Regions from separate parts of the Homo sapiens genome. Here region 2 is linked to region 1. The links come from fine-mapping of genetic effects on gene expression. A gene starts in region 1. The other region holds a variant in brackets. All regions are shown on one strand. Distances are from middle to middle.

What was found. PIP is the estimated chance that this variant, and not a neighbour inherited with it, causes the effect.
Region 2: its variant is the best candidate, but not a certain one, in a credible set for the expression of EMP1 in thyroid (GTEx, PIP 0.75).

What each region holds. Positions count from the first base shown.
Region 1 is chr12:13,194,290-13,199,673 of GRCh38, forward strand. It overlaps EMP1 (epithelial membrane protein 1), which reads left to right and starts at 2,437. Exons shown (of 5, transcript NM_001423.3): 1 at 2,437-2,583. RefSeq lists an enhancer at 4,477-4,977.
Region 2 is chr12:13,129,794-13,135,177 of GRCh38, forward strand. No RefSeq gene overlaps it. Among named protein-coding and RNA genes, the nearest start is that of GSG1, 29 kb to the left of the region's middle. The variant G/C (reference allele first, on the strand shown) is at 2,956.

The DNA.
Region 1 (5,384 bases):
GTGAGATTTATCAGACCCATTTGGAAGGTGATGCTGTCTACTCACTTTAAGGTGAAATGGAGGCAGGCAGATGCCTCGCTCACAGCCACTGCCAGGTAGTAGGCGTGGAAACTGGGCCTCCTGCTTTCTGGGTCCTGTTTTGAAGCCCGTCCCTGAGCCCAGCGTCTCTCTTTGTGAAATCCATGGAAATCCAGATAGACTGAAGGATTCCTCTACTCAAGTACTTTAAGAAAAGTTCCTGATTTTTCCCCTTGTTAAGCCCGAGAAGGAGGTGGGAGGGAGAATGCCTCCCCTCTGCTATTCCTTGGCTCCAGGTTTCTCTTTAAGAAATGCAATCAGACCACATACTCCTCAGCATCTGAGAACACTTCCTCTGGAGTCCAGTTCTCCTTTCCAGGCAGCTGAGGGAAGAGAGACTTTAAAACTGGCAGAGGGCATCAGGGGTGAAAGGCAACCCTGAGAGTAGGAAAAGGCCAGGGAGACAGGCCGATTCCAGCAGGGGAGACTGGCCCATCTGGAGCGCCAGCACATGCCTGGGGATTTCCTGGCCTCACCTGCAGACACCCTCCCCTCCCTGAGGGTTGGGATGCTCAGAGATCACAGGGACTCTCAACCCACTGCTGGGAGTGGCCCCTCTCAGACAGGCATTTTTATTATCAAATGAGCAATGAGAGAGGGGAGAGGTGAGGAACTCTATGAGAAACATGCAGTCTTTTATCACGTCATCAGTTTTCAGTGAGAAAATCCAGACCTTCTTACTTTTACAGAGATAGAATTCAGTTCTCAGGGACTTGTGAAGATGCAGCATCATCAAATCATTGTGTGTGTGTGTGTGTGTGTGTGTTGTGTTTTCCTTATCATCCACCTTAGAAAATATTCTCCACATTCCCATGTTAAAATATTTTTTCCTAAAATCCATCCATCCACATGCCAACATCCTAAAGACAGTAATATAGGTTCATTGCAGAGGATTTGGAAAATACAGAATTGTGACCAGAACAAACTAAACTGCATCCATAATTTTATCATCGAATTTGATCAACATTTTGGTGAATAGCCACCAGTCTGTTTTCTATCTTTTTAGGGAATATAAGTTCCAAGAGGCAGGGATGTCATTCACTTCTGTGACTCAGTGCTCTGAATCAGGCCCAGTGAAGACTGACGTGCAGCCTGTATTGGCAGAATGAATGAATAAATACTACACACGCATATTTTGAATTGAAATAAGTTGTCAGGGTGCAGCAGAGAATAACAGAAATAGAATTGCTTGGATGTGCTGACCTAGATCCAAGCTGCTACTGGTAACGTACTGTATCTCCTTGAATAAGTCACTTCACCTCTCTGGGCCTGAGCTGCTTCTTCAGTAAAATAATCCTTGTAGCTAAGATTTGTTGAGCGCTCACTATGCACACTGCCATGAGCCCCTATATGTGTATTTCTCATCATAGCTCTATGAGTTACATACCTGCCATCTCCATTTTATGCATGAGAAAATAGGCATGGAGAAGTTAAGTGGTTTGCCTAAAGTCACACAGCAAATTTGTGGAGAGCTGGGCTTGAACTCAGGCATCTGGGCTTTTACTCTCTCCAGTGGAATGCCTGGGCTGTGGGATGAGATGACTTCACAGGCCTCTCCCAGCTCCAGAGTTGAGAGAGAGAGAGGAGTGGTGCAGGGAGGTAGTAGGGATGATTATGCTACTGGCCAAGTTCAAGAAAGTCAATTGTAGAACAAGGTCCAGCTGATTATTACAGAGAGCAAAGTTCTTAACTAGAGGACTTCCTCCTGGAATGTGGAGAGTCCACACGGGCACTAGCAGAGCATAATGAAAGACCAGGAATTCTCTGCTGTTCAATCAGTGCTCCATCACTCAGAGGCAGGGCTGCAAGAGCTCCTAGTGTGTCCCCTTCGCCTTCAGGGCCTCCCTGTACAGCCACCCACAGGACAGTGCACCAGGGTCAGGCAGGGAAGTAAATAAAAAAAGGAATCTGATAATTCCTGACAGTGAGCAGCAGCTGATGCTTTTAATGGGGGAGGAAGACTGGGAATCTCGCTTGATGATGACCTAGGACTTCAGTCAGCAGGACACTGGCCCCTTTCCTCCCCCTCCCAGGCTGAAACCTTGTGTTTTGCCTTATGTCCATGGTAACCAAGTCTCCTTTTTGGTGAGGAGGAATGGGCTTCAGTAAACAGATCTATTTGTGTGATCCTGTTACTCATTTGAAGCAATGTCCCTCCTTTTTTCCACTGTGGTCTGTGTGTCTGAGTCAGAGAGAGCCTACAACAGGGTTCTTTGAATTGATGGCTCACTCCCAGCCACTCTTGACTGACTGCCAGCTTAGCAGGGCGTAGCTTACCAACAAATCTTTTTTTTTTTTTTAAAGCCAGACTGATTCATAGAAACTCCTTTAAAACACGGTGAAAAGAAACCGCCCATTACACACCCCAGTACACCAGCAGAGGAAACTTATAACCTCGGGAGGCAGGTCCTTCCCCTCAGTGCGGTCACATACTTCCAGAAGAGCGGACCAGGGCTGCTGCCAGCACCTGCCACTCAGAGCGCCTCTGTCGCTGGGACCCTTCAGGTAGGACAGCTCCCAACGCTGTGGGGACTCTCAGCAAAACTTCTCCTTCCTTTCCACGGCTCTGCTTCTTCTGACCTCATCTTAGTTTTGCTTTTTCTTTTCTTCCTTCGCTATTTTTCTATGATCCTCTAAGAACCAAGTCCTTGAAACTTTTGGCTCAAAGTGGATACAGAGACAACTTTTTCTAGAAAGTTCAGAAAAGTGTATTTTGAGGACGGAGTCTGGGGAAATCAATGGGATGGGGCTAAAATCGTGCCTGGCAGTGACCGGGTTCTTGTTCTAGGATGTGGAGGGAGCAGGGACTTTGAAACAAACTGGGATAGGATCCTGTTTATGGAGGAAACACCACACACCTTGGAAATGACATCGGGAACTGGCCAGATGTTTTTCACCTCCTCCGTTTTGATTCCGATTGCTTCAGGACTTGAACTGTTACTCTGCTCGCTGGTTGTTGGTTGGGATTTTTTGGGTGGTGGTGGATAGATAACTGGTTTTCAGTTTATTTTTGACATTGCTTTTCCTGCCTGTTTGCTTCCCTATTCACTTCTGTTTAAATTTAAGTATTTTTTTTCTCCTCACAGGATGGGAAGAGGGGGATTGGTTTGTTTAAAGAAAACTGTTGGCCGGGCACGGTGGCTCATGCCTGTAATCCTAGCACTTTGGGAGGCTGAGGCGGGCGGATCACCTGAGGTCAGGAGTTCAAGACAAGCCTGGCCAACATGGTGAAACCCTGTCTCTACTAAAATACAAAAAGTAGCCAGGCATGATGGCAGGTGCCTGTAATTCTAGCTACTTGGTAGGCTGAGACGGGAGAATTGCTTGAATCCGGGAGATGGTGGTTGCAGTGAACTGAGATTGCGCCACTACACTCCAGCCTGGGCAGCTGAGTGAGACTCTGTCTCAAAAAGGAAAAAAAAGAAAAAGAAAAAAAATGAAAAAAGAAAACTGTTAGAGAGAGAAAGAGAGGGAGGCAAATGGTGTTTTAAATGAAACGTGGGAGGGGTTCACTTGGTCGAAGCAGGAGCTGATGAGGATTCCAGATGCCTTCTCTTGGCCAGATGTGGAGGGCGGGGGAGGCAAAAGGGAAGCTGGGTTTGGAGAAGAGGGTGGGGCAGGAGAACTTCATCTGTGCCTGTTAAAAATTGTTGAGTGGCTTTGTGCTTTCACCCCAGAAAGAGCTGCCTTTCAGTGCTGAGTGAAAAGATGGCATACCAGAAACGATAAAAGAACTTTTAAAAGAAAGTGGATGTGGAATTTCTTTGCATGGAAGGCAGTGATTGTTTTGAAATGCTTATCTTTTCTCTTGTTCCCGAAATGTGATTGTATAAATGCAAACACTCATGCTAATCATGAAATCTGGAGGAATGAAGAAGGGTGCTTTTTCTTTTTTTTCTTTTTTTCTTTTTTTCGGTTAGCATTTTGGGTGAGTGTCTACCGAGGTGTGGCCCATTTCAACATAGACACTGGTATATTTTTTCCCCAAGTAAACAAGATGAGAATGACAGGATTCAGCTTGTCTGACAAAGTTAGGCTTTTCCTTTAGAAAGGCAGTACGTTGGGAGAGAAGTTACATGTAATCAACCCTGTGTTGAGCAGGCAATGCTCCTTGTAAAACTGCCCCAAGGGGGACGATTGAGTAGGCATCAGGGCAACTTTTCAAGATGAAGGGAACTCCTACATTTGCTTCACATGTTTATTATTTCCACATTACATGGATGTGGATTAGCCATTATTAAATCAATAGTGTTAATATCCTGTGAAAATTATACAAATCTTTTAGTTCTGTGCAGGTTAAAACTAATAACCAGTCAACACACGGAAAGCCCTGACAATGTTGGGAGTGTAAACCATCATGAACTGCATTATTTGTGGCAAGGTTTCACATGATACTGTAGGTTTATAAAGGAGAAAATATGCTACATGTTACTTCCTGGAGTTTGAAGACAATTTAGAAAAATACCGTTCTGATTCCTGCTCTCTGCTCTTCCTCCAAGAAGTAGTGAAAGAGTCCCTTAGCTGTGAGAGTTTTTCTGGATTTCAGCTTTGACAATCCCGAAATGTGAGGGTTATTTTTCCCCCCCACTCTGCCCGCTGCCTCCCACCCTCAGGGGCAGATCCAATTCCACCCAGACTCCGAAGAATGGGGCGGGGGCGGGGGCTGCAGGACATCCTGTCTGGCGCCCTGGTCAGAGGGCCCCCCACATTTACATTGTTTGTGGGTACTAAACTGTCTTGGGAGTTGGCAAAAGGCCATCAAGAACCAACTTGGAGCAAATCACATCCTTAGAATCTGGCTATCTCCCAGGACTGCTGGGCAGACCGCTGGGGAAAGGAAAGAGATCCCTTCTGTGGAGAGTGGAAAGGACTCACTGTGCCTTCCTCAGCCCTTCCTGCTTCCTCCAGAGACCAGATTAGGCCCATCAAGTTCCCAGCCTTGTCAGTGGGCTTCATGGAGACCCCTCACCCGGGAATGTAGACCCTCTTGGCTTGCTCTGGGTGGCTCTAGGGATTTCAGGTAGTGCCAGACCCACAGGGACTACTGGAGAGAGACACGTTGAAGACCGGGGAAAACTTGTGGATGAGGCAAGACTGCTTTTCTGTAGACTCTATGGAGCCTGGTGGGGCACATAACTGAAACGTGGACACAGGAAAGGGCAGGAGGCAAGTCAGTTCCATTTCATCCTTCATTTCGTTCACAGAATTCTAAATTTGGGAGGGATCTTGGATCTCATTCATTCTCCTACTGTATGCAGAAATCTAATTTTTACACCATCTTGAACAGATGGCCATCCTACAGATCT
Region 2 (5,384 bases), 64 kb before region 1:
AGAATTGCATATATAGTAAACACCCGTGTGTCCACCACCAAGAATTTATAAATAACATTTTGCTGTTTTGACTTTTATCACATAGCTTTTCACCTATCCATCCTTTTATTCATTTATCAATCCACCTTCTTTTTATGCATTTCAGAATAAGTTGCAGGTATCAGTATACTATTTCAGATTCTTATCAATAACAGAATTCAATATTTGTTTACAGTCCTTTTTATTTTTTATGGTAATGTTTACATACAGTAAAATGCACAAATCTTAAAGTTTAATTCAATGTAGGGGGCTTTATATATATATGTTAAGGGTAGTAATTGTCCCTTTTTATTTATATTGCAAGTATTTTCTTCAAATCTGGCACTTACCTTTTAACTTTGTTATCATATCCTTCACACACAGAACTGCAAAATTTACATAGTCAATCTGTCAATAATTTTCTTTATGGATTCTAGAGCTTGCATCACCCTTACGATGACTTCTCCCGTCCCAATATGATTTTAAAAATTCAATTTTTCAGTGTTCTGGTAGTTATATTTTTAATTTTAAAAATCCATATTAAATTATTTTTTGTGTAGGGAGTGATAAAACCTAACTTTTGCAATAACAAACCAGTTGTCCCAAAGCCAAAGACTCTTTTTAGATTTATCTGCTGTAGTCTTTGATGGATGATTTTCTCCAAAATTTAGAAGAAGTTGGAAGAGTGGAGGAAGAAAAGTCAGCAAGAAAGTAGGAGAAAGCAGTGCAGAGGGGATGGAGAGAAAATGAGATTTTGGAGTGAAGATTCTAAAAGTCTCACTAAATTTTTCTGCAACAATTGAACGAAGTTATTTTTTGCATAAAACTGTGAAAACGCAAGTTTTGTCTTCAACAATATCTCCCACATAATTTTATTTGACAGAATAATAAGGTGATTCAGAGCTTGGGAATTATATAAAAACCAGTTTCTGTATCTTTTTAGTGAAGACTTATCTGTGAAAGCATCGGAGTCAAGGTGTGCAATTTGTCAGATATCAACTGCAGCATTAGTGATTGATCAGTCTGGGGACATGTGAAAGGAGAGAGAGAGAAAGCAGCAGCCAAGAGCACAGCAGTCAGAGGGAGGGTCTGGCTACACTTTGCAGTTTCACTTTTGAGGTAGGGGACAAGGCAGCCTTTGGCAAGGGAGCATGACCTAGGGTCAGTGTTGCCATTTGAGAAACAAGGGAACAAAAGAAATATGGATATATAGTTCTTTCGAGAACACATCTAGACTATCTCATCCAGTCTTGGAAACGTTAGTGTTTTTTAGCAGACAATCAGTTGGAGTGAACCAGAGAAAGAGAAGAAAAAATTACTTGTAATGACGTGTTAAAAGGAATGCAAAAGAATTTTTGTCAATTGCACTGCACAGCACAAAAGCAAATTCTTTCTATTATTAACACAACATAAGGAAAGAAGAAGAAAGTGTCAATGTTTTACTACCATGATAAATACTTGCAGGGGTTCAAAGAACTATAAATAAGGGTTCACATGTGTCATGCTTTCTACAATACACTATTTATTCAGGATCTAATAAAAAGTGAATATTGTACAGCAGGTCCTTGAATAATGTCATTTCGTTCAATGTAGTTTTGTAATAATACTGATGAGGAAAAATAATCGCTTCCTGGCTGGGGCTGTTGTCTGTGTGGAGTTTACTCCTTCTCCCCTTGTCTGTGTGGATTTTCTCCAGGTATTCCAGTTTCCTTCCACACCCTGGAGCTGTGCACGTTAGGTGAATTGGTGTGTCTAGTTTGTCCATTCTGATTGTGTGTGTGTGAGTGTGTGAGTGAGTGTGCCCTGTGATGCAATGGTCTCCTGTCCAGGGTGGTTGCCTGCCTTGTGCCCTGAGAGGCTGGGAGAGGCTCTGGCCACCCATGGCACTGAACTGGAATAATTGGGTAAATAACTATCTTACTTGTTTTTATTAATCTTTCATAAATGTATGTATAACTCATTTTTATTTTATTTTATTTTTTTTGAGACAGGGTCTTGCTCTGTCGCTCAGGCTGCAGTGCAGTGCATGATTGTGGCTCACTGCAACCTCGACTCCCCGAGCTCAAGTGATTGTCTCACCTCAGTCTCCCAAGTAGCTGGGACCACAGGCACGCGCCACGACACCCAGCTAATTGTTTTGTATTTTTTGTAGAGACGGTGTTTTGCCATGTTGCCCAGGCTGTTCTCGAATTCCTGGACTCAAGCCATCTGTCCACCTTGGCCTCCCAAAGTGTTGGGATTACAGGCATGAGCCACCATGCCAGGTCCCCTTTTATTTGAGTGTTTACTATTATAATTGCTTTTGTCTTTATTTAAAAGTTTGGTGATGTTTTCGTGATCAGAAATATGCTGTAGGAATTTAACTCTGGTGTACATCAATTAGCCTATGTTCAAACTGATTTTGTTATATGTTGTTTTGCTTAAAGTCACAATTTCCAAGAAGCTATCAATGACGTTAAACAAGGACTTCCTGTACTATATGACCCAGCCATTCCACTTCTGAGTATTTACCTGAGAGAAATGAAAGGATAGATCCATATAGAGCCTAGTACATGAATGTCCATAGCAGCTGTGTGTGTGTAGTAGCTGTGTCTGAAATAGCCTAAATGTCCGTCAACAAGGGAATAGATATACCATTGTGGAATATCTGCATAATGGAATCTTGGTCAGCAATAAAAAGGAAGGAACTATGATACACCCAACAACATGAGTGAATCTCAAAATAATTATACTGAGTGAAGGAAGCCTGGCTGGGCGCGGTGGCTCATGCTTGTAATGCCAGCACTTTGGGAGGCAGAGGTGGGCGGATCACTTGAGGTCAGGAATTCGAGACCAGCCTGGCCAACATGGTGAAACCCTGTCTCTACTAAAAATACAAAAATTAGCCGGGCATGGTGGTGCATGCTTGTAATTCCAGCTACTCGCGGGAGGCTGAGA[G/C]AGGAGAATCACTTGAACTTGAGAGGGAGAAGTTGCAGTGAGCCGAGATCATGCCACTGCACTCCAGCCTGGGTGACAGAGACTCTGTCCCCCCAAAAAAAAATAAAAAAAAGAAGGAAGCCAGACAAAAGAGAGCACATGCTTCATGATTCTATTTCCCTAGAATTCTAGAAAATACAAACCATGGAGGAAGGGAGACAGTGAGCCCTAACAAAAGTGCACCAACAGTTTTAGGTGTAGTGGATATGTTCATTATCTTGACTATGTTGATGGTTGCATGGATGTCTACGTATGTCAGAATTGTTCAAATTGTATAGTTTAAACAGTGTATATTATTGTATGTCAATTATATCCCAATTAAGTTATTAAAAAAGATAATGTCAAAAGGTATCTATTCACTTTAAAAAACATGATCTTTTCTAAATGATTCAAAATTAAATGTTTTAAGCCAGCAAGATTTACTACTATGTTTAATCCACAATTTTATTTAGAAAAATTTAGTTAATCCATTTTTTTTTTTAAGATGAAGTCTTTCTCTGTCACCCAGGCTGGAGTGCAGTGGCACGAGCTTGGCTCACTGCAACCTCCGCCTCTTGGGTTCAAATAATTCTCCTGCCTCAGCCTCCTGAGTAGCTGGAACTACAGGTACATGCCACCATGCCTGGCTTATTTTTTGTATTTTGGTAGAGACGGGGTTTCACCATGTTGCCCAGACTGGTCTCAAACTCCTGAGCTCAGGCAATCCACCTGTCTCAGCTTCCCAAAGTGTCAGGATTATAGGCGTGTGCCATTGCGCCCGGCCCCCAAATATTTTTAGAATTAAAATTATTCAAAGAATTTTTCTTAGAGTTGAATGAATCTATGTTGGTCATCTATGAGAAGGAAAATCAGTCAGAAGGAAATAGAAGAGGTTTGTAAATGCATCTATTTGCCACGACACTCTTAGGCTTATAGAATTAACTCTCCAAAGGGAAATTATAGAAGCCTCATTGCCATAAAACCCAACTGTACAAAGACCTCAGCTAAGAACAGAGCTCAAAACTTAATAAACCCTTTCATCCAAAGATACAAGCTTTTCCAGATACCAATTAACAAAATCTTGTACCATGGTATGAGCAGAGGGGTACACTCATTGCTGTTTAACAGATATTGAATTGGAACCCCCAAGAGCTCAGACAACCTGTCTGAGGTCATCTGGCGAGGCAGCTCCTGACTCGGGGTGAAGCTTAAGAGTTCTGCCTTCTGGCCCTGCCCTGCCTGACTCCAACCAACAAAGAACTCTCTGGCCCTAAACCAGACCAAGTAGGGGGAAGAAAATTCATGGTTTAACCAGTTTGCATTGGAACCAATGTGGTGTTAGAGGCCACACCAAGGGTGGGAACCAGTGGGTCGAATTCTAAATCCATCTCATTTCTCTACTTTTTCCCTCCCTACTTTGGACCAGTCCATTGCTGTCTTCGTTGAACTCTTTGTGGCTTGACAGAATATATTATTGCATCCTTTTTGCATAAAGGAGAGATTCTTACAATTTCATTGGACTGTGGGACACTCAATCCTTCTAGATTGATTATGGTGATAAATTTGGAGACTCCTGGAACCTGGGAGGGAATTACTGTCAGATCCAAAGCAACAGCAAATGGAAGATTTACCAAATACTGGGAGAAGTTTACCCTGGACTTTTGAGGAATATTGTAGCCTTTAGATGTGTCAGGGGCTCCCCCTTGTCTGGACTGGGATTCCTGGTTGGCTTTGACTCCCAAGTGTGGAGGAACTGGTTAATTTAGATGTTGGATTCTATAATTAGAAGCAATCTTTTTCCTGGATGACATATGGTGAGATGTTCTAACCAATGTAGAAGGTGTCTATTATGCATTTCTTCTGCAGTTCTTACAGTAATATTTGACTTATTTGGCAATTATTCATACATGGCAGACACAGCCATCTGAAACACAGCTGAAACCAGCAGGATGCAAAAAAGGCCTTTGGGTGGCCAACATGGACATCAAAAAATCTTCGAACTATTCTGTATCTCTTCAACACTATTCACTTTTATTTCAGGCATGACCTAGTAAGCTTAATTATGATCTACAGCGGATTAGAACCAGCACATTAATGGGGCAGGGGGAAACTTTAGAAACAGAAGCTAGAAGTTAGCAGTTTTATGATGAGGGAGGAGACAGGAGAATTATAAAAGCACAAATAAGAATGCAGAAAATGTAATGATTTGAGGTAAGAGCAAACAGCTCTCCAGAACTCATGAGTCCAAGAGTTCATTATTTTTCTTCATCGAAGTTAAATATTAGAGGTTGTAATTATTTCTTTTACAAACATATATTGGAAGCCTGGATACTGTACCTGGCACTGGGTATGTAATGACAGACATGGTCCTGCCCTAATAGAAGGTAATAAATTATGTTGAGTAAACTTTA